Linked DNA regions of Homo sapiens: regions 2 and 3 are each linked to region 1. The links come from fine-mapping of genetic effects on gene expression. A gene starts in region 1. Each other region holds a variant in brackets. All regions are shown on one strand. Distances are from middle to middle.

What was found. PIP is the estimated chance that this variant, and not a neighbour inherited with it, causes the effect.
Region 2: its variant is fine-mapped to the expression of STAMBPL1 in whole blood (TOPMed, PIP above 0.99).
Region 3: its variant is fine-mapped to the expression of STAMBPL1 in whole blood (INTERVAL, PIP above 0.99).

Annotation. Positions count from the first base shown.
Region 1 is chr10:88,875,756-88,883,942 of GRCh38, forward strand. It overlaps STAMBPL1 (STAM binding protein like 1), which reads left to right and starts at 4,490. Exons shown (of 11, transcript NM_020799.4): 1 at 4,490-4,883. It overlaps LOC124902551, which reads right to left and starts at 4,909. Exons shown (of 1, transcript XM_047426134.1): 1 at 3,979-4,909. The coding sequence starts at 4,667. The coding sequence ends at 4,140. It also overlaps the pseudogene PTCD2P2. RefSeq lists a silencer at 4,379-4,508 and enhancers at 5,089-5,198, 6,219-7,418.
Region 2 is chr10:88,918,624-88,926,810 of GRCh38, forward strand. It overlaps STAMBPL1 (STAM binding protein like 1), which reads left to right. Exons shown (of 11, transcript NM_020799.4): 9 at 2,660-2,772; 10 at 3,714-3,813; 11 at 4,545-4,864. The coding sequence ends at 4,601. Among named protein-coding and RNA genes, the nearest start is that of ACTA2-AS1, 10 kb to the right of the region's middle. The variant G/T (reference allele first, on the strand shown) is at 4,569.
Region 3 is chr10:88,836,402-88,844,588 of GRCh38, forward strand. All of the region lies in intron 1 of ANKRD22 (ankyrin repeat domain 22), which reads right to left. Among named protein-coding and RNA genes, the nearest start is that of ANKRD22, 11 kb to the right of the region's middle. The variant T/G (reference allele first, on the strand shown) is at 4,242.

The DNA of each region.
Region 1 (8,187 bases):
CCAAAGGGCTAGGATTACAGGCATAAGCCACCACGCCAGGACTGTTTATGTTTTAATTACTAAATATTTTTTCTTCCAAAATAAAAGGAAAGCATGTCCTTTATAGAAAAATTAAAATTATAGTATAAAGAAGTCAACCATAATTGCCCATAACCAATCTCTAGGAGGCCATTTAAATAATTTCTTCTGGATTTCCTCCTGTATTCTTATCTATTTAAGATTTACCTACTTGAGATATATACGCATGCAATTTTGTGTCGTTTGCTTAACATTGTATCATAAGCAATTTCAACATCATTAAAAGTCCGTCATAAACATAATTTTAATACCCAAAGTTGGTGATAAATATCTCAGTGGAGGAATCTTATTCTTTATTTCAGATTTCCTTAGGATAAATTGCTTCTTAGAAGTGGAATTACTGTAGGAGATGGGAAGAGTACATTTTAGAATGTTCCTTGACACACTGACGAATTCCTTTCCAGCACTGTAACAGAATCACACCACCAGATAAGAGGGCTGATTTCATTGGACCCTCACCAGAAATGAAGAAATGTTTATTGATAAGCAACATTTGTTAATATTACTGGTAAGAGAAAAAAAATCCTATCTTTTAAAAAAGTCTGGAGTTGGTATAGTCTGAGACAGTATGGCTGCGGCATTTTGGTCCTCCAGATGAGCTCTTCTGCCAGCGCTGCAGATTTCAGTGTATCCCGGGATGAGAGGCTCCGGCTCCACCTGCTGCCACTGTCCTCTTGGAGCAAAAAGATATCTACTTACAGATAATATTATGAAATTAAAAGAATTTCAGCATAAGAAGGTGGCTGTTGAATATAATCTTCCTGGCACCAAATAAATCTATTTTAGAAACTTGGAAGAGAAATTGAACTAGAACAAGCTCATCTTGAAGGGGAAGTTGAGAACCCTACTTCATTTGCGTGAGTCCTGGGACCATGTGGAACTGGCTAAAAACATCATTTGCAAGTACCATACAGAAAACAAAAATGTCACTTTGGCGGAATTTAAGTTTGGACCACTTTTCATAAGACTGTGTTACGACTCGAATCTTGAGGAATCTGCAATGGAGCTCAGGAAAGATGAATATTTACAACGGTTCTCAGACTCCACACAATTTACTATTTTGATGGTTATGTTATTTATCAAAAGCAAATATATAAGTGCTTTGGAAATATTGACAGAGATGAAAAACCCAGATGGAAAGTTCACCAGGATACCTATGTTCTTGATTTTGCAATTGGCCACAAAATGAATAGCTCTGAATCTTTCTAAGTCTGTACTACATTAAGAAAAGAAGCCCTAATCAAAGGAGTTCTCTCCAGGAGAGCATCCTGTTTCCTGTGACATCAGAACCAGGTGGCAAAAGCTATGTCCATTTTTTCTCACATCATGAATCCAGAAAGCATAAAGTTTACTAATTTAAACATGATCATCCATATCCAGTCAAATATGTTAGCAACTGTGATGGAGATACTAAAGGGCGTTGCAGAAGGAAATGTATCAAGATTCGTTGAAAGACGTGAGTTCTCAGAGGAACTGCTGGCCAAAGTGAGGAAAAAAGGGAAAGTTGCGCTTGTCTTTGTGGCCAGATTTCATGAGATGTATGGAAAACTGCACATCGTTGTCCAGGTCACCACTTACACTTTGGATGTTCTGCTCTGCGACATCCGTTTAAAAATGTAAGGGACGGGAAATCCCACATGTTGCCATAAAACAACAGGATGGTCACCTGTTAGACCTTCCAGGCACTGGGCCAGTCCCTGTTGGCTGAGTAAACCCTAGTTTCAATCCACCTGTGGGTATGAAGACCTGCTTCCAGTGAGTTATTGGCTTCCCTAAGAAGCAGGCATCGCACTTCAGCAGACACTACAGTGACACTTGATTTCCTCCCTAAAATCACTGAATGGTGGCATGCTGCTCTCTGAGAAGTTATGTCGTGCCACTGTGAAGATCTAGATACAAGCACAGAAAGCTCAGCTCCCTCAGAAAGCAGGCTTCCCCTGTGCACACTACTGAGGATCCGTGAAGGAACATGGTCACTGTCTCCAGTCCAGCTTCCAGTACTGGAGTGGAACCCAGTAGGCACTATCAGGAATGAATTTCACTACAAGTGTGGTCAACTCTGATTTTCAAGGGAGTAATTACTTGCAAATTATACCCTTGCTGAATTCAGGAGGTCCGAAACCCTGTTCTACCATATCAGAAAATAGCCCAGGATTTCCTCACTGCTCTGCCTTCATGTATTCTGTAACTTGAGCCCTCATTTTCTCATCTGCAAAATAATAGTGCTTATGTGTATTTGCATATAGATTTGAAATCTTCATTCAAGGTTTAGTAGGGTAAAATTGTCTCAAAAATAAGAGAAACAAAAGTTCTGGAGCAAAAAGAAATCTGGATTTTAAATTACTATTGAGATTGAATCTTTAAAAATGCAAGTAAAACTATAGGTCACTTAAAAATTCTCTAAGATAAAAGTTGTATAAATACACTGGTGCTTGCTCTTCATTAACTCAATTAATAAAAGGGAAATAAATCACACCTAAAGTTGCTATATCAGAGTTCTTGGTCACAACGCTGAAATCATTTCTGGCTAACTGAATCAGAAGAGAAATATATTGGAAAGTCGTTAAGTAGCATACCAAAGAGACAGGAAGTTTGGCAAATAAGTCTCCTTACACAGGAAGGGAAGCTTAGCAGCTGAAATTACAACAGGTGGGTCATCACACCATTCAAATAGCTCACTTAGGACACCACTGACATTGCCGCAGTGTTACCTCTGGCACTACTGTCCCTGAACACAAAACCCACTTCACAGATAATGGAGACATTTCTAAAATGTTTCTTCTTGAAACACATAATCCAGATTCAAATAACTGTACAGGAGTCTCTGAGGCTGATGTTGGGTCACAAAATGGTACTCTAGCCGCTGGGGAGCAGGGGACGATGGGTATTGGGCCATTTTGGCTTTTATGAGAATTTGGATGCTAGATAGCAAGACCATGATCAATGACCACTCTAAATACGTACGTGGAATTTTTTGTTTCATAATGCTTTTTAGGAATCTGGCTAACCTTCTTAATTACCACTGAATTTTAAATTGTCCAGTAGGTCATGAGATTATCTGGTTCAATACTGCAAACTCAAATGCCTACCATATTCTCAAATGTCAGTGAGGTGGGGGTGTATGGGAGTGGTGGGGACTGTGGAAAACTGAAGAGTGTCTTCACAGTCTAAAGGCGACACCTGCTATTCAGCTTCAGCTGATGGTTGCTAGAACTCGCCATGGACCAAATGTCTGATGTTACGATTTTACAGAAAATGTGAAAAGTCTGAATTTCTGTGAAATTTCCTAACTTCAACATTTGGAACCAACTTAAAACTAAGCAAAACAACACTGTTGCTTCTTAAAAATCAAGGCTGCAGGCTGCCTCCAACAATCAAACTCTTCATTTAAAAAAAAAAAAAGAATCCAGGGAGATGAGGCTTAAGAAGGTGAAATGCTTGAGACCAAATAACTCAGTTGGTGGCTGAGCCAGGGCTAGAATTTTGGTTTCCAGAGGAAAGGCTAACTAAGAAAAGCCAGTGTTTCCCCACCCCACTCTGCAGCCATTTCTCTCACTTGGAAGTAAGCTCCCAACCAAGCTCAAGAAAAGCGACTCTATTTCATCCAGCAGCAGCAGTCTCCATAAAATGTTTATCAGTTAATAGAACCTGTGAAGCCAATAGAAACAGCTTTCAGTGTTGGATCAGAGTTTAAATTTCAGCTTCTACTGCTTTCTAGGTGAGTAACCTGGGATAAATTATTTTACTTCTCTGTCTCTCGTTCATGGAAAAAACAAAAACAAAAACAAAAAATGAGTCCCTTTTATATACAGGGTTGTGGCAGATGGACTAAGATTTTGTGTACCGACTGCCTGACACAGTGCCAGAACTGTAGTAAGAACACCACACGTGATAGTAACATAACATCCAGGAGATATTCTAATACTTCTTATTTTCCAAGTACACACAAATTGGGGGTAGGGGGAAGGGCTAAGATGCTTAATAGTGGGCGTAGCCAGTTGTGGATAAATATCAAAAAGGGAATCCTAACATGAAGTATAAGTGGGATTTTCACCAAAACCCTATCCTTCCCCAGACTCCAGTGACAGTTTAACGGTCAGCTGCATCAAGGCTTGTGTACTGTGCAGTCTTAAAAGGCACCACTCCTGTCCATCTCGGTGAAATTGATGGTGGAGCAAAAGGGAGTTTAGGTGGTTCCGGTCTGGGGAGAAGACGTGCAGGGTTTCAGATGCGAAAGTCGCACCCAACCGCTTCACTCGGGCTCTAGGCCATCCGCAGGGGCCCTGCTTCCTTCCACCTGCGAGCTTTTTCTGCAGAATGCGGGAAGCCGCCGCCGCCGCCACAGAGGAGGGGGCGGAGGCAGAGGCGGAGGCGGCACCCAGGGGCCGGGGCAGGGGAGGCCGGGACCATCGCAGTGACAATTTATTTTCCTGCAGCAGCGGCAGCAGGGACGGTTGCTGCAGGTTCGGGGTCGGCCGGCCTGCGCGTGGGCTTGCGAGGACGCTGTTCGTCCCCTGCGCTGGGGTGTCCGACAGCGAGGAGGAGAACGACGCACGGAGCCCGCGCGACTGGAACCAGCAAAGCTCCATCTGTCGGCAGAGGAGAAGGGGGAGGAGGCACGGCCGAGGCAAACGAGCGGACGCCTCGTCGCCGGGTGCCGGTATCACCCCGCTGCAACGCCTTCCAGCAAAAGCCACCGCGGCCCGGGTTGCAGCAGCCGGACGGATGCCAAGGCCACACGGCAGCCACGGGGGCAGCCGTCGCAGTCGCCGTCCCACACGGGCTGCGGACACCAAGGGTTGCTAGTGAGTAGCGGCGCGCGCGCGTGAGTGAGAGCGCGCACCGGACGGGGAAGTGCGCACGGCGGGTGCGTCTGCCTCGTGGCCTGGCGCGCGCCGGCCCTTCCGCTGGCAGCGTCCGGTCCCGGGCTGGCTCTAGGGGAGGAAAAAATGCACTTTGGCGGCTGATCGCTTCCTTCCTGCCAGTCATGCAATCGGCCGCCTCCATCGGCGCCGCCTGTATGCGCCCCTCCGCTGGGCCCTCTGGGTTAGTTTCACCTTGATAGGGAGGCAGGAAGACCTGGCTGCTGGTGGCAGGGCGGGACTCTGGCCGTGACCTATACGTGGGTGCGCCTGTTTTTTTGGTTCAGCCCTGGGTTGCAGCCTTGGAGATGATGTCGACCTTGGGAGAGACCACTGCACTGTCTCTAGCGGCGCGGTGTGGAGGAGGGAGGGGCGAGGGTTAGAAAAACGGACCTTTACCCCGGCCGAGCAGGTGCCATGCCTTTCCAGATGATGTTACTTTTATGCCCTTTATGAGCGACTAAGACATTGCCCCTCACCTGAATAACTTAAAGCTTTCGCTGAAAGCCCCCAGTGAGATGCACAAAGAAATGGAATGTCTCCAAAACATATTTTTTTCAGAACTTTCTCTAAAACAACCCACGCTGCTGATACCCCCAGAGCCTAAGGTGCCATAATTGCTGAAGTTTAAAAGAAAATTTATGTAAGGAATAAGTAATTCAGGAAACGGAACCCAATCTAGAGGTTTGAAAAAAAAAATCAAGTGCCTGGGAAGTGGGGTGGGGTGGCTTGCTTCCTGGAAATCAGTGTTCGGTAGTAAGTAAAAAAGACAGCTTTCAAAGTAAGCCCCAGTGAGCACACTGCTTTCCAAACATCTTGCTCATTACTGACAATAACATGAAGTCCTGGATTTTAAGCTATTTCCGAAGACATAATAGATATCACTAGGATGCTTGTTTATGGTCTCATGATTTAAGGCCCTGTCAAGGTCAATAACGTAGATTTGTTCCAGCAGATAAATTATACCTGAATGTTTGATTGTTCGTGTCAATTTTTTTGAGGGTAGGTTTTGACGGTTGTTTTACACAGAAATTAAGCCACCGTGTTTTGTTTTTATCCCGACCTTGTTTCCATTGGAAATTTTGTGTTTTCAGGATGGATGCTACATTGCACTTCAAAAATATACTCTGCCACTGGATTGTAGTGGGCATTGTGTAGCTACACTATACATATCTTTATTTTTAATACAAGTTAATGTGTCGCTGAGCAGTAGGCTCTTTTTGTTTACCATTTGCACCATGAGAGCTTCTCCATTCAAAGGCATAAAATGTTATTGGAATCTACCTGCAAAATGAATTGGCTGATTGTTTTCTGTTCAGACACAGATACAGCAAATTGCCACTAAGAATCTGCTTTTGCGTATACGTTGGCTGTAATTTATGTAGCAACTGGTTCTTGGGAATTTCAAGAAGAAACTTGTTTTCTTATCCTCACCTATAAAGTAAGCACCAAAATTTAAATTATAAGGCAGATAACCTAAGTCCTTTACCTCTATCTCAACCTTCAAGGCCTGTTTCTTGGTACTCTTGCCCTGTTTCATAGGATTCTTACGGTTTGTGGGAGGCTTGGAGGGAGTAGTGAGGAACCAGTTTCCTGAGGATGTCCTCAATAGAGAGATTTGCTTCTGGAGGAGAGAGTGTCTTTGGGGTTGATTCCTAAGAAGGACTGATAAAAATAGTTATAAAGAATTGTTAGTAATAGTTCTCTCTTCTTACTTTCAGCACATAGGACTTAATTAACACCGTTTGATCATTTCCTTCCTTTAGGACCCTTCCCAGCTGTAAGAATTTACAGCTACAATCCAAGAAATGAGATTGCATTTTACAAGAAAAGAAAACTGATGATTCTTGCCCAAAACATGAGAAGTAGAAGGAATGTGAGAGAAAATAATGTAGATTCCGTCCAGGAAGTGCTAGGTGCTTTCCTGGTGGGTACATTTACAAATTAGGGACATTTTAATTAATCTACTGGATTTGTGATTCTGTCTGCTACTATCTTCTTTTTCTTGACCTTATGAAAGATTTATAGATGGCTTCAACTGAAACTACAGGAAATGACTCATGGTTATCCCTGAAGATATTAGAGCCAGATTTCCATTCCTTAGGGCTGATGCATAGCAGCTCTTTGATAAATATTTGCTAAATAAATGACAAATTTTAGAATGTCTTTTTATTATTATTGTACTTTAACTTCTAGGGTACATGTGCACAACTTGCAGGTTTGTTACATATGTATACATGTGCCATGTTGGTGTGCTGCACCCATTAACTCGTCATTTACATTAGGTATATCTCGTAATGCTATCTCTCCCCCCTCCCCCCACCCCACGACAGGCCCGAGTGTGTGATGTTCCCCTTCCTGTGTCCAAGTGTTCTTATTGTTCAATTCCCACCTATGAGTGAGAACATGCGGTGTTTGGTTTTTTGCCCTTGCGATAGTTTGCTGAGAATGATGGTTTCCAGCTTCATCCGTGTCCCTACAGAGGACATGAACTCATCCTTTTTTACTACATCACCTCTTCTGCTATTTTTTAAATCATAACTTTATATGAATCACCAAACATTTCATCAAATTGAATCCCAGTTCATATAATCAACTAAGAAGGCCAACATCCTCGATTGAAGAAACAGTAACAAAATCAAAACAAAACAAAAACAAAACTCTAAAACAAAACTAAAACCAACAAAAAATACTATTGGTACCTGTTGACTTGCTTATTCCACCTATCTGAACATGTGAACTGTCCAATTGAACGTGTGAATGTACATTCAGAAATCCTGAGTTGACATCAGAATGTTCAACTCAGGAATAATCTGGATGTAGCTACATCTGGATGTGGCTTTTGTCAGAAATTATTTGCATTTCTAAGCAAATCAGATTAACGTCTAGTACAATCTTCCATCTCTGCATGTCAAGTGGACAGGCCAATTTAACATTTGGCATACTGCTGAGTCTTCAAAACACATATTGTTTGATGCTCTAACTTTTAAATTAAATCTGTGTTATTTTTTTCCATTGATGTGGTTGGCTTAGAGACATTAATTTGACTGGTGGTTGCTTAGTAACTTGTGTTTATTAAAAGAAGTCCCTTGATATAAACACCAGTAATTCTTATGTCTTGATTTGCTGTAGTTAACCTTTCAAGGTACTCTTTTGGAAATGGGTGCATTGTCTTGAATATTAAGGATGTTATGACTCCTTTTTTTTTGTTTTTGTTTTAGTTCTGACTTTCCATCTCCTGTCATTA
Region 2 (8,187 bases), 43 kb after region 1:
GAGTAATATGCATTACACTTTGCCTGGAAATTGCTATATTATTTAGCTTAACATGATTTCTATAAAAAGAATGCCTTATTTAGCGTAACATGATTTCTGTAACAAGAATGCATTTTAAAGCAAAACAAATTCTAGCAAGAATGACAGTCCATTAAATTATGCATTTACACTGACAAGTCAATGTTAGTTTATCTAACAAAACATTTTCCAAATTAGAAACAAAAATTTTCCCCTTATGACCTACCGTGGACATAATGCATGCAATTATGAAGGTAAGTTGTTTAATAAGTTTAGCATAATTCTTGAATTTTAGGACTTTTTGTTAAACTCATTTCACCGTATCAAATTATTGTGGTTGGATGAAAATACAAAAATGTTACATTTCTAAACCTAAGTGATTGTAATGACTTTTTATGACGGTTTTTATTAAGTATAATAATAGCAACAAATTCCAGAGCTGGCTTTTTTCAAATACAAATTAGTCATAGGAATAAAAGGTCTGAAACATAGTCAGACAGACATGTATTTGACTTTAGACATTTTGGTTTAACTAGTTTTATGAGCATCAGCAAGTTACTCACTTTCCTGCTTACCTCAGTTTCCTCATCTGCAAAATGGGGATTATAATAGTACTTATCTTGTTGCTGTGAGAATTCAATGATATGACTCATGAAAAGTGATTAGTTCACATTATACAGTTGCAATAAATGGCATCTGCTGCCATTGTTATCATCATCATCATCATTTTCATTTCTGTAGAGTGAGGGAATGGGAGCCTCATTCTCCCATGGGAAAACTGTCCTAATTGGAATGGACATAATTCCTTTTGGTAGAAATGAAGGACTCAGGTCATGTGGTGTGCATTCTGTGTTCAAATAACTTGACAAGCAGAGTGATTTGTCTGTTTAATAACCTGCTTGCTGCCTCCACAGCACTGTGGTTTCTTTGAACAATTTTTAATTTCTCACGAAGACATAGACGGCTCTATTTTACAAAGAGAAGGTATTCCTTGTAAGATAACAGGCTGTCAGATACTCCCACTCATACCCCCTACTGAAGATTTGCATTTTAAAAGTTAGGATAATTTCCATTCCTTTGTTGATCTAAGTTTTTATATGCCAAGTGTTATTTTTTCCTTGCAGAACATGTACCTTTCTGTAAATCATCATCTGATTTTACCTTCATTCTATTAAAGCCGAAAAAAAACGTTGTCTTGCCTTTTTTTTTTTCAAGACAGGATCTTGCTCTGTTGTCCAGGCTGGAGTGCAGTAGAGTGATCACAGCTCACTGCAGCCTCAACCTCCCTGGCTCAAGCGCTCCTCTCACCTCAGCCCCCTCAAGTAGTTGAGACTACAGGCACATGCCACCATGCCTAGCTAATTAAAAAAACTTTTTTTTTGTTTGTTTTGGAGAGATGGAGTCTACCTATATTGTCCAGGCTGGTCTTGAACTCTTGGGCTCAACTGATCCTCTCACCTTGGCCACCCAAAGTGTTGGGATTACAGGCATGAGCCGGTATGCCTGGCCTAAAAATAGTTTTAAAATCTTACATTTCTTTAATAGAATATAGTTTTGTGTAAAGGCATTTAGCTACTACTATGGCTCTGTGCCTTTTAGTTAATAAATACATTTAATATAACACTAGCAATAACAACAGCTAATGACTTTTATTTCTATGCGCTAAGCACTGTTCCAGGAATTTTAATGGACTGTCCTATTTGATCTTCATAACAATCCCATGCAGAAAATATTATCCCAATTTTACAGATGATGAAATGGGCAAGAGAAGGTTAAGAAATCTTCAGCGTCATATAGCTAGTGAGTAATGGAGTCAGGACCTAGAGAGTGGTGCCAAGAATCTTTGTTTCATGATTAAAATAGTCACATTCTTTTTTCTAAGAGTAATTAGGGTTTAATATGAATTTCTAAAATAACTAGGTGTGCATTTATTTTTTATATTCAAATATGAACCTCCGATTGGCCATGCATAAACACATTTGTATATAGCCAGAAACTTGGCAGATTTCTTGTAATTTATAATCCCCCTTTTTTTCTCCCCATGTATTTAGTTGCTATGCGAGATTAGTCCCAAATACCTTCAACAACTTGGAGTCTCCCATTCTCCCATTTATAGGAAATGACAATCCACAAAAGGATACACAGCAGCATGTGGTCTATTTAGTGAAAACTTTCTTTTAATGTTCATAATGTTGTATATATGTATCTTGTGCCCAGGGTTTCCAATCACAGCTCTGCTCCTTACCAGCCGTGTGACCACAGGCACATTATGTAACCTCCCTTAGTTTTGGGATCCTTGTATGTAAAATTGAGATAATAAAATAAGTATCTCATAAATGAGTTGTGATAATTATATGAGAATCTATTTAAAGCCCCTAGCAAATTAATTTCCAGCTCTTTCTTTCCCAAAAAGAAGAAAGTACACTAACACTTCTAGGAGCCTCTTCTCAGAATTGTAGTTATTCCAAAATAGCAAATAGTTGGCATAAAGGGAAGGATTATGTCAGCAAAACCTTTTTAAAAATCCTTATTTGATTAATGATGGTAAAAACTAAAAAAAAACAGAGTTTTCTATTAAAATAGCCTATGGCCTTGGCTAAGACAGCTATCCTAGTAAGATTATCTTATTTTCTATTTATAGACACATCCCACTCAAACTGCATTTTTATCCAGCGTTGATCTTCACACTCACTGTTCCTATCAACTCATGTTGCCAGAGGCCATTGCCATTGTTTGCTCACCAAAGCATAAAGAGTAAGTGTAACTCTTCAGGGGAGACCAAAGAAGGCTTTGTCCAGGGCTGCTGGGTTCCTGTGTGTCCAGACACCAGGTTGTGGTACTTGGATTGGCAAGCACACAACGCCCTCGGGAAAAAGAGATGGGTAGTAGTCAGCTGCCATAGACCTATAGCTCTGCAGTTTAAGGTCCTTTCAGTGGCAGAATTACTGATTTTCTTTCTTCAGTTAGCGTGACTTTGAAGTGAATAACATTTAAGAAAGATGCTATCCCAGTTAGCCTTTTTAGGACTTATTTCTACTGTATTATGTTCTACCATAAGAAATGTTCTTGCCTTAGCTGAGAAAAAAACCTTTCTAGCTTTGGGGAACAATGATTATTGTAGAGTAGTTATGAGCATGGGAATCAAAAAAACATATTGAAATCCTGGCTCCACCCCTCAAGTGGTGTGTTAGGCAGGATACTTGACCACTGTGGGTCTCTGCCTCTTCATCCCTGATACCTGCCCATCGGGGATGGATGTAAAGATGAAATTAGATAATAGTTTATGTACAGTGCTCAGCATAGTGCCTGGTACCACAGCAGGTACTCAATACATATTTGCTATTGCTATAATCTGTATTAACATAATTAGAAGATTCGAAATATCTGCCACTTGTAATTTCCTCTCATGAGACTCTCTAGTGGGGCTTTGGCCTTTCCTCTGGGGTCACACACGATAGCTTATTTGCCTTGTCCCCTTAACGGTCCTGCAGGCTCTTAGCAGCAGCATTGCCTCCTCCTGGGTTTCTCTCCTCTGGACCAGTCATTGGTTTAAAAAAAAAATCACTATGGAATTCCTAGTTTGTGATTTCTCAATCCCATCTGAGGAATATGTATGTGTGTGCTGTTCAAATAAAGCATCTGGAATGCCCAAATGATCCTTAATTTTTCTATCTTGTTTTTGCTCTGAAATTTAGCACTGGCATCTTCAGGCTCACCAATGCTGGCATGCTTGAGGTTTCTGCTTGTAAAAAAAAGGGCTTTCATCCACACACCAAGGAGCCCAGGCTGTTCAGTGTGAGTACATCATATTAGTTATTTTTCCAGGTATTTCTTGTTCACTGCCCCCCCAATCTGTTTTTAAATAAATAGTAGCAGTCTAATATAAGATAAAATACTGTACTGCTTAGTTTGGAGTTTTATCTCAGAAAATTAATCTATCTGTATACTTAATTTCTGATTTATTCTCAAAATAATTGTATTTACAAGGAAACATCAGTATTTCTGTAGCAGAATTAATGGTGCACAAAGTTACCTTTCCGCTTATGTATATGTATGATATTTAAAAGTTTTCTTCAGAGTCCAAATAAGTAAACAATTATCATAGAAAATGACATTTAAAATGTTGCATGAATTCTTTCTGCTTGATATGGCCAAATTAGTTTTTTCATAGCAATTGATGGAAACTATGATCATACTTCTTGATTACCTTTGCATAGTCCAAAAGAAACATTTGACTACGCCTTTTTTTTTCCTAATTTTCTTGGAGGTTCTGTGGCTATAACATCAGAGAACATTATATTGACGTTAGAATTTACTTAAAATGAAAATTATTTGGCAACCCCTGTAAATATTTTTGTTGTTGTTGAAAATGAATAAATGTGATTGTATTTGTTCTGATTGGAAATATTTTAAAAATCAGGAACAAATTAAAATTAGGAAATCTATACTTCCTCCCTAAAGAAAATCATATGGTAAACATTATGGTGAAATCAAACATATGGTAAAACCAATTTTTTCTTTCCTAGATATGCAAACATGTGTTGGTAAAA[G/T]ACATAAAAATAATTGTGTTGGATCTGAGGTGATATGTTCTGAATGTAAGCACCGTCAACATCAGACACCTACTCATGGACATGTGGTTGCCGGATTTTCTTAAGATGTTTCCAGAAATGACTGATATTTTATATTTATACATTTTAGATGACAAAGCTTGATATTTATTGCTGTTGCACATTTTAAAGTTTTCTTTTTGGGTTGCTCTGTGTCAAGAGAGGTTACATGGTGTTAAATCGGTACCTGATAATGTACCCAAATACTATGGCCAGATAATAAATTGTGCTGCAAACAACATGTCTTGTATTTATAGAGGTCTCTGCATACATTTTTAGAGCTTTAGATGATTTGCTATATTTTTTATTCATGTAAAATGTAATTCCAAATAAGAAATTCTGAGTGTATATAGTCTCCAAAGCAGACCATCTGTTTCTGAAACCTTCCCCTGAGGTAGGTGAACAGCTTCCATGTGTAGATGAAATATGGCTGCCATTGATAAAGCTTGTTCTGTGTTTTCAGTGTCATGAAATCCCAGGCTCAGAGAGATATCTCTGCAGTGAATCATTGTGTAAGATACAAGAACAACACTTCTATTCAGGGATCAGGTGTCAGAGGGCCTGGGATAGCAGACAATTCATTAATTTGATTTAGAAGACTAAAAGTAGAGAAGCTTGAGAGAGGATTTTTTTTTTAAAAAAAGACTCAGATAAAAGTACAAAACCTGTTACTGTGAAAATGAACAGGGGTGATAGGAAGAAGAAATGAGACATAAGAAATAACTGATAATTCTTAGTCAACTTGCTAACTCTGTTAGCAAGTTGAATTGGTAGGAAAAACCTGAGGATGGAAACAGTGTGGAGAAATCTTAGCTGCAGATACACAGAGGGCAGAATGGAAGTGATATTGTTGAGTTATTTGAGAATAGGTCCTTTGGGACACTGAAGACTAGTTCTGCAGGTGAAATCTTTATCTTGGAAGACATTGCTCCCAGGCACATTGGGAAATCCTGGGCTGACAGCCCTTTCCTTGATCGAGAAACTTGTGATCACTTCTTAGTCTCCCTTTTCATCCTTTAGGGCCTTACATTACTCTAGTCTAGCTTTCTTCTTTTTTCTTTTCAACGTTTAAGTTTCCTTCTCCAGCCATCTCTCCCTGGATCTCCACAACTTTTCAACAGGGCCAAACTAATCCTATGAAACCTTCTGTCTTCCCAATGTCTTCTGTGCCAGCCACAGCTCTCCCTGCCTTTGCTTTCCTCATGACATTGTATCTGAGTTGCCTAAACAACTCATGTTTCCATGTACTAGCTTCCACTGCTTAGTTCAATGATTTCCATATTCCAGAGTGGTATTTCCTGTACTCTGTGCTTGGATGGGTTAACATCTGATATGGTTTGGCTGTGTCCCCACCCAAATCTCATCTTAAATCATAGTAGGAGGGACCTGGTGGGAGGTAATTGAATCATTGGGGTGGTTACCTCCATGCTGTTCTCATGATAGTGAGTGAGTTCTCAGGATATCTGATGGTTTCATAGGGGGCTTTTTCCCTTTTGCTCAGCACTTCTTCCTGCCATTATGTGAAGAAGGACGTGTTTTGCTTCCCTTTCCGCAATGATTTTAAGTTTCTTGAGGCCTCCCCAGCAATGCAGAACTGTGAGTCAATTAAACCTCTTTCCTTTAGAAATTGCTCAGCCTTGGTCAGTTCTTTATAGTAGCATGAGAATGGACTAATGCATCAACCCTCCCTGCTTGTCTAGTTCTCAATTCTGGTATCATGTCACCTGAATTCTGTTCCTGTTCTCATTTATACAGAACCACCTACTATGGGCAAGTCAGTGGCTTGTTTCTGTTTCATGGAATCTTCTAGCTATGGAGAGCTCAGGTATCAGACTTCAGAAGTAGAGCTTGGCTTGCCTTGTGCATGGAGACTTTAGTCTATGGCCACCACTAGTTAAGAGCAGATTAACTCTGCAAGGCTGGCTCCATAGACACCTCACTTTTTCCTGAGTGGTGCTGTCCTCAGTGTCTTAACACTTAAACACACCATGATATTCTGATATGCTTGATCAAAGGAAAATGTTATATTCTTTATTCAAGTAAAAATAATTGTTGGGACAATGGATAGTTGAGAAATGAGTGAGATCCTTTGTATAGAATTAAAAATTATAGTAATACACTAAGAGGATGTAAAATGAGAGTTGTCCGATGAAAAAGCTATGGACATTGAATGGTGCCTAAAGATAGAAAGGACTCAGTTGAGGGCCAAGAACATTTAGCATCTTAGATTTCCAGAAAGACTAGAAAGAGAAGCTATGAGTATGCAAAACCATTATGTCCCTTCTGAATAGCAAACTAGAAGAGAACTCATTTTCACTAAGAAAGTATATTGTATTTCCTAAATAAAGGAGACATTCTTGGCACTTTTTTGTAGGTTTTTTTTTTTTTTTTTTTTTTTTTTTTTTTGCCAAGTACAAACCAAATTAACCAGGATCTCACAGAGTGGGACTGTTGGAGGCGGCAAACCAGAGCCTGACTTTGGCTGGCAGAATGAGGCCCTGGGGCTGTGTCTGAAAGAACCAACAGAAATGTGACCACATCACTAAGTAATGGACTGGTCGTGAGGCAGAGACCCTGTTAACCAACCTGGAGACGCCACTACACACACATGTGCATGAGCACCAGTGTTCATTGGATAAACTATCTATGGAAGGTCTCTTTCACAACAGGCAGACAGCACCTTCTCTTTTTTTGAGACAAGGTCTCACACTGTTGCCCAGGCTGGAGTGTAATGGCATAATCATGGGTCACCGCAGCCTTGATCTCGTAGGCTCAAGCGATCCTCCCATCTCAGCCTCCCGAGTAGCTGGGACTACAGGCACTCACCACCACACCTGGCTATTTTTTTTCTATTTTGTAGAAATGAGGTCTTGCTGTGTTGCTAGGGCAGGAGATCCTTCTTTTGAATATGAATCAGTTCCAAAGCTCCATTTGCCACATCCTAAGGCAAAGATGGTTCTTCATTTCTTTTCAGATTTGTGTTTCTGTAGAAAAAAAAGAAACAATTAAGAACTTCCTTTGATTTTCAGTGCTAGTCAGTTTGCACACAGTGCCTGACACCTCATGTGTATTTGTTATAGGCTGAATTGTGTCCCCCAAATTCATGTGTTGAGGTCCTTAACCCCCCAATACCTCAGAATATGACTGAGTTTGGAGATAGGGCCTTTACACAAATAATTAAGTTAAAATGAGGCTAGTAGAGTGGGCACTAATCCAGTATGAGTTGTGTCCTTATAATTAGAGATTAGGACAGACATACACAGAAGGAAGACCATGGGAAAACAGAAAGAAGACTGCCATCTGCAAGCCAAAGAGAGAGAGATCTCAGAAGAAACCATCCCTGCCAAAACCTAGATCTCAGACTTCCAGCCTCCGGAACTGTGAGAAAATAATTTTCTGTTGTTTAAGCCATCTGGTCTGTGGTATTCTGTTTGGCAGCCCTCACAAACTAATGTAGTATCCGGTAAATATTTGCTGAAGTTGTTTGTTTCCTTTTCTCTTACAGACTGAATTGGAAATGGCTTTCTTTGTTGTCATGCAGGGCAGAAATCATTCTTTCCAT
Region 3 (8,187 bases), 39 kb before region 1:
GAGTAGCTCAGTTATTCTATATTAATCCTCACAACAACCCTCTAAAGTAGTATTAATATACCTGTTTTGCACAGATGAAACTAAGGGAAATTGTTTTCCTTGCCCAAAGTGACATAGTTCACAACTGGCATGGCCAAGAGTCAAATCAAGGGGAATGACTGCAGAATGCGTACATTCTATCTCCAATCACTTTAGTCTTAAAAATCAGCCTTCAAAATGTCTTCTGGCTACAAGACTTCGCATTTGATATTTGTGTCCAAAATTAAGCTACAGTCTGTATTCGGGATATTGATCTGTCCACTTGTGGCACTGACTTGCTGGTTATACTGGTTATACATCCAGACTCCTTCTCCAACCTGACCTAGAATCAGCAATATCCACCAAGAGATAAGAAGTGTCATCAGAGAGTCTGCAGAAGAAACAGAAAAACGTTAAGACTCAAAGGCAAAGAAGTGAAAGTTTCAAGAAGGAAGACAAAGATCATTGAATGTGATCATTAGCAGCCATGCAGAGGCCAATTTTCATACAGTGATGGGGCTGAAGGAAGAATACAGAGGCCTGAGCACATTGTCTATGAAGAATTAGAGGATGCAATTGGAGAGGAATTGTAGTCAGTTTGGCAGTGAAAAAGCTGTTAGGGAAAGCTAGAGACTTCAAAGAGGGGGGTAGCAGTGTCCAGCCAACGTTCCACACGTTTGTAGGCAAAGTGGTGTCATCAAGTGGTTACAAATCCAGGCTCTGGAAACAAACTCTCTGGGTTCCAATCTCAACTCTGCGACTTAACAGCTATGTTATTTGGACAAGTTACCTAGACTCTTCATGCTAAGTTTCCTTCTGCTTTTGATAATCATGCCTTCTTTATAAGTTTCAGAAAGAATTAAATGTAACTGTGCAGATGAAGCACTTAGCTCAGATCTGAGTCACAGTAAACCCTCAATTAATGTTAGCTACTCTTATAATTATTAAAGCATAAGGAGCCAATGAAGATGGACAGGAGTGGTTATGAGAGGGTAGATAATTGATCAAAGAGAGTGAAGAGATGATAGGATAGAGAGCATTAAGATGGAAACATTAGTCTCCTACATAGAAGGAAAATTCTGGCTCTAAGGCCAAAGCAAGGGAGAAAAGAGAGCTACATGGATGGAAAGAAGTTTAGACTGACTGAAATTTTTGCCAGAAAGTCAGAGGTTTGATCTTCATTCATTATACTACTATATATTTGTCATAAATAAATAGATACATCTAGATAACTAATATGGTTTGGCTGTGTCTCCACCCAAATCTCATCTTGAATTGTAGCTCCTATAATTCCCACATGTCATGGGAGGGACCCAGTGGGAAGTAATTGAATCATAGGGGTGGGTCTTTCCCATGCTGTTCTCATGATAGTGAATAAGTCTCACTAGATCTGATAGTTTTATACAGGGGAGTTCCCCTACACAAGCTCTCTTTTGCCAGCTGCCATGATTGACTTTGCTCCTCATTTGCCTTTTGCCAGATTGTGAGGCCTTCTCAGCCATGAGGAATTGTGAGTCAATTAAACTTCTTCCTTTATAAATTACCCAGTCTTGGGTATATCTTTATTAGCAGCATGAGAACAGACTAATCCAATAACTAAATAAATAGCATTGACATTTAAAAAGATGAATGGATTAATGACAGGAGATGTGATTGAGACAAGGGTAGATGAGACTTTTGAGCATGATGGGGAAGATTTTGGACCATCGTAATTAAAACTGTCTACATGAAATGAATAAAAATATAAAATGGCTTTGAAAACCAGGTTGTAGAAACACAGTAAGAAGATAGAGTTGACTGAGCCTGCCATGTGAGTTTGTGATTTTCTTCAGCAAACCTAGATGAGGGAAGAGTACAGAAAGTGAAGAGGGCAAGAGCAAGGATTAGGAAACATGTCTGTCAGGCAAGAGAAATGAGAGGAGAGTGGTTTACCATTAAATTCAGTCTTAATGGGCATCATATGTAAGCCAGATAAAGACAAATGAACTTGCAAAAAGAGAGAGACAAGCAAATAGAAACACAGAGAAGGATCAGAGCACAGTTCGTACATGTGGTCTATTAGAAAAGTAACCAGTTTAGAAGTTATCAGAGAGATGTTACAGATAAACTCTGTCTAGGGATGAGAAGTCAAGGGTGGCCTTGTTGGGTATCTGATTTGGAGTAGAAACACAGGTCAAGAAGGGAGAATGAAGCTTATGGATGTTGAGGTCACTGAGGATGACCCCGGGGGACAGAAAGAAAGGGGAACTTGTGTTCCAGGGAGGTGGAAGTGGGCCCTGGAATACAGTGGACAGAAGGGAGAATGTAGAGAAAGGGCCATAAGCAGAGATTTCAAGTAAGAAATTGAACCATGGTCAAAAAACAACGGTGACCAAGAAGTAGACTGAATCAGCAGCCACCATAAGAGAAGGTGTCATAATGCCCAGGAAAAGCCAGATTTCAGTGAAGGCACAGAGGAAAACAGACTAGTAGGCGAGGAGGAGATTGAAGAGAAGGAGTATTTACCAGCAGGGTGCATGAGTTCCCATGGGCTAACCTGTGAACAGCGCTCCCTAGAGCCGTGCTCTGGACAACCTGAAAAGCTAAGACACAGGATTGATAGGGCCCACTGACTAACTTTTCTCTTCAGCCTCATCTATCAATCTCCCTTTTGCTCACAACTTTGTGGTGATTTCTGGGGCATTCCAGGTTCATTTCTGTCTTCTGGCCTTTACACTTGCATGTGACCTATATGGCGGGCTTCCTGCTAGGCCAGATCAAGTATCAGCCCATGAATCACCTCCTCAGAGAGGACTTCCCTGACCACTCAGCCTCCCAGCCCAGGAACTTTCTCTCTCTCACATAATCTTGTTTTATCTTTTTAAATTGCACTAATTGGTATTGAAATGGGGTGTAATGTGCCCAAGTTCCTAGAAAGTGAGGTATCTATGACTTTTACCTGGTTTTTAAAGTGCCCCTCAGTGGGCCAACTGTGTATAAACCACTGCTGTTCTGCAAGCTCTCCCATCTCTGGTCAGGTCAATTTCCTCACTTCTATGTTTGGGCTACTGGCTTGCCATCCTTATCTTTTAAATTGTGCTATCTATTCTTCAAGGCCCATCTCATGGTTCATCTCCAAGAAATCTCTTTCATCTTTCCTACCTGCAGCAGGAAATATACAGAACCTCAAGCAGCTCATTGGCCTTAAATGAGCTAGTGGGTTAAATGTAGTCTCCTTAACTAGACTGTAACCCTCCTGAAGTTAGGCTTCCATAAGGTCAAGCACCCAGAACATGGATAAAAGTCATTTGTTGGTTGACACATGGATTCATCCGATCTGGCTGGGAAGTGAGGCTAGGAAAGGGGTTGATGTTTAGAAGGTAATCGATCATGTAAGGACCAGGACAATATTTCGCCTCAGTGGTTCTCAACCTTGGCTAAATATTGCAATCATGTTTGCACCAACTTAATGTTTAAAACACGACCCAGGCCCCACTATTGACCAGTTAAATAAGAATCTGTAAGAATAGGATTGGGGCATTAGTGCTCTTTAAATTTCCCTGGTGATTCTGATGCACAGTGAGGGTTGAGAATCTCTGCAAAGGTAAAAGAAACAAGCCCCCCATAATGGAAGTAAAAATTTAATGTAACATTGCAGCTTTTAAACTCACATTAGCTAAGGAGCATTCAAAACTCTGGAATAATGGAACATTAGGAAAAATTTTTTGTGTCCTTTTGCCTTCCCACATGTTTGTCTTTAAAAGGAGTCAAGAATTTGGAGGTAAGGTTTCACTCTGTTCACTTCCATCTTACTTGCCCAGGCACTAAAATTTAAGAAGCGTCCATGGGTAGAATATGACGCATCCGGTATGTTGATGATTAACTAAAATAATCAGCATGTTGATGATTAACTGTATGTATTACTTAATAATATTTTGCACTGCTCTAAGTACAATAGATATCACAGCTGAAAAAATATTTGTTGTTATTTTAATAGTGTAGAAACATCTGAACAACTTGTACCACTATGGATGTCTTTAAAAGCAAAGCTTCCCCCAAATTACCCCCACTTTTTAGTGTTGTTTTCCCTAAAGTATAATGGAGCTTCTGTAATTCCCAATCTAAGGAAAGACTGTGTAGAACTTTGCCTGTGGCTCAGAGGAATTGGTTCACTGTTTATTAGCCATCTCCATGCTACAAGCTCCCCTCACTTAAAATGTTCCATGAAAACTTCTGAGAAGGAT[T/G]TGTAGGTTTTGGAGCAAAATGATTCCGGTAAAGAGCCTTGTGATTCACGAAATGTCTTCTCAGAAAAGGAAGGAAGATGTTTTTCTTTCTCTTCAAGTTAAGAAACCTTGGAGAATGATAATAAAAACCTATTGGGTTTAATTTGATTTCTACAATTAATCCCAAGCCTTTGTTTCTGATAACTCACTCTTCACATACTGTATTTTATAAATTCCTTAGGAAATGTCTTCTTTCAGACAAATAAAAAAGTCGCAATAATTTTTTAAAGGCTGTTCTAGGCCCACTCCGTCTCTGTGTAACATGGAGGAAGGTCCCACCACTGGCTGGAACGTGTAGAGAAGTCATAGTTCCTCATGAACGATAGCAGAAGGGGAAATAGAAGCAGGGCACATATTGATCTATGTTTTCTACTCTTTATCCTGAAAGGTCTGTTTGAGAACATGAAGTTATGTTCCTTGCCAGGAAGCTAAAAAAACCCCATTGCCACACTTCTGACTCCAGGACATCAGAAACTCTGAGGTCATGAGGACCAGGGGAAAGCAGAAGATCCTTCACCTCCAGCGAGGAGTAAGGGTGGAGGAAGAGTGGGTTCTGGCTGCTAGAAAATGGCAAATCAGAAGCCCTGATATTCCCCTACTACCTCAGACCACCACAGAGGTATTCACAGAGAAGAGAGAAGGCAGTAGGGTGCCCATAACTAGGTAACATCCAGTTCTACAAAAGGAGGGAGTAAGAGAAAAAAAAAGAAAGAAAGAAAACCTTTGTGGTCTTCTTCCATTTCATTGGTGTAACCACTCCCACCTGGCTAGTTTCAACCTACAAAAGAGAGAGCAACGAACTCAGAGTTGAGCAAAATTGGCTTTCACAAACCAGTTCAAGCTGACTCAAGCCAGCTCCAGCCTGCTCCAATACACCAGCAACAGGAACTGGCATATATTTCCGTTAAAGTAAGTTATAATGGAGACCAGGCTTGAAGAATCTCTGGGCCAGACAAATCCATTTAGACCTCATAAGTGACCTTAACCTTGCTCAATTTGCAAACATAAGCAAAACTTAACTTCAGCTATTTCTTATAAATCCCTATATTAAAGAAAAATGAAACCAAGTTAACTAATCAGAAGCCTAACTTACATAGAGACTTTCCAGCAGAATCGACCAAATAAAGCAACTCTATAACTGCAACCAATCAAATATTTTCTGTGCTTTACTCCCTTTTTCACCCTATAAAAGCCTTCTCCTTGCATTCCCTCCAAAAAGCCTGCAAACCACAGCTGTCCAATTCCTGAATCGGTATTTGCTCAAATAAATTCTTTTGAGCTTAACCGTGCCTCATTTTACCTTTTGACATCCCAAGACTTTTCTACACTGTCTTATTCTTAACGTAGAAGACAGTTTGGCTGGGGAAGGGCCCAGGATTTGAACTCTCAGCAGCCAATGTCTCTAAACATTTAATGGACCTAAACAGGTATTTTAGCACTAAATCTCTAAATGTAAGTCTCCTTTGGGAAAAATAAAAAATAACAGTAAAAAGTTTCACAGTAATAATACCTACTATATACTGAACTCTTTTTATATACCATCTGTAATGCTAAGCACCTTAGCAGCATCTCATTTAACCCTTACAGCAATCTTAGAACAAAAATAATATTATCCCTCTTTACAGATGAGAAAACAGGCTCAGAGCTCTTTATAGCTAGTGAGTAGCATAACTAGAATTTATACTCTGGTCTATCTAACTCCAGAACCAGTGTTTTAACCCATTAAGCCTCTCTCCACTCCTATGCAACTCCATGCACTAATTTATAATAAACTCTACCCACAAAAGTTCCAGGAGTGCCTATAGTCCTTGATTATTTTCTTCAATTCAATTCAACAGACTTTGAGATCTCAATACTTTCCAAGAGAACTGTGCTAGGCTCTAGGGATACAGAGATGATGAAAACCCAGTAGATACTCACAAGAGGTACATAATAGCATTCATCACATTCTGTATCATGTTATACGACAAACCTTCCCAAGCATCTGCAGAGTTAACAAAATTACTAAAATCCCCTTAAATTCAGTTAAAGAATTTGGATTAGAGGACTAGCATGTAAGTGAACCTATAAAAACAACTATAAATGTTTCACATACTTGGAAAAATAATGACAGGAAAAAAATATCAGTAACATTTCACACATTGTAATGTGGTAATAATAGACATAGTGTTATGAATTGTTACTTGCCAATTCTTGCTTACAGGAAATTTTATAGGTCTACTGTGATTTGCAGTTTCAATAATATATTTGCAAATAGTTTTTACTCCATTTTGGATCATACTAATACTGAAGACAATTATTTTTTTCCTCTCTGGTCCTTCATTCAAATGTATGATGACTTTCTGATTTTATGTCCCAGAAATTACCACTACTTCCCAGGTAGGGGCTGACTTCCATTAGCGTGCAGCTCTGAAGCCACTGTTTCTTGACCTCATCTTCATTTACTTTTCTCAAGGAAGGCTTCTCTATAAAAGCTTCTTCTCTTGCCTGCCATCTACTTCACCTCCTTTTCCTAAAATCAACTCTTACCTCCAATTCCTTGTGTCTTGAATATTCTGTGGCGGAAGAAATTCTCATTCACATATATAGAAACGGGAAGTCCTGAGGTTGCTGAAAGACCTCATCCCACCTTGTTTTAAGCATAATATGATCTTGATACCTGCCAAAGGTCAACTGTTGGTAAAGCCACAAAACCATAGTGCTAAAATCCCCTTTCAAATCCTCATCACGCCTAATCTTAAGCATGTTGGGAGAAAACGTTGCCTTTGCAGAAATGCTTGCTTGATTCTGAAGATTCATGTGGTCTGATGGTGCATCAAGGCAATTAGCATCTTTTTCATTTTTCAAAATTGTTTACTTTAGTGGCACCAATTAGCTAAAAAAGGGTGTGGACTTTAGGGTTCCAGGATTAGTTGTATTATTTCAGTGTAACAAGTAAGTTTTTGGTTATTACTATAAAGTCCAATTAAAATAAATTTGACCATTAAAGGCAGGAAAGTTGAGTTGTGGCAAATTAGAAATCAACTAACATCAAGAATTTCCCACAAGGGATTTCATTGGGAGAATTATTTGTGTCTGGCCTTATGACTGCAGTAAATTCTTTGGAGAAAACAAATGTTTTATTCTTACATTCTTGTAACTCTCACATAACCTACTATATTATTTTCTACAAGATAGACACATGTTTATTAAACCGACATTTAGGTCAGGGAAGCTATCATTATACCTTTCTCTTCGGCAACCTGCAAACTGGGAATCATAAAAATCATAACACATAGGACTCTCAAATCCACTTTCATCTAACAAACCCGACATTTTTAAAAATTATAATACTTCAGTAAAGCACAGTAAGAGAATACATAAAGAATGACAAAGCCACTCTTTTAGATCTCTTGAAGGTGAGATTCAAGCAGAGATCCATGATCTGTCTTAAGTGAAGGAATGAGCCAGGTAACTTTCAGGAGGAAGAAACTTCCAGACAAAGGGAATCCAACTGTCAAGCCCTTTGAGACAAGAGCTCGATTTGATGTGTTCTAGGAATAGCAGGAAGGTCAGCATGGCTGCATGAGCAAGGGGAGTGGCGGGAAATTTGGGAAGCAAATGGGACCAAGGAAAATTGGGTCTCGTAGACCATGGTTAGGACTTTGAATTTTATTTTATGTTTGATGGGAAATGTTAGCAGAGTTTTGACAAAATCTACCTTCAGTTTAGAAAGTTAGTGTTAAGACTTCCCAGTTAATTAGTATGTAAACCATTTTGTTGTATTAAATAGTACTTTATGGGTTTCCAAATAGTAAACGCCTCCCATTCTCATCTCTTTTTCAGTTTTCCAAAAAAGGTATTTCTAATCTTAATAACTTTAAGATTAGGGGAGCTATGTATCAAGAGCTGTTTCTATAACATAAGT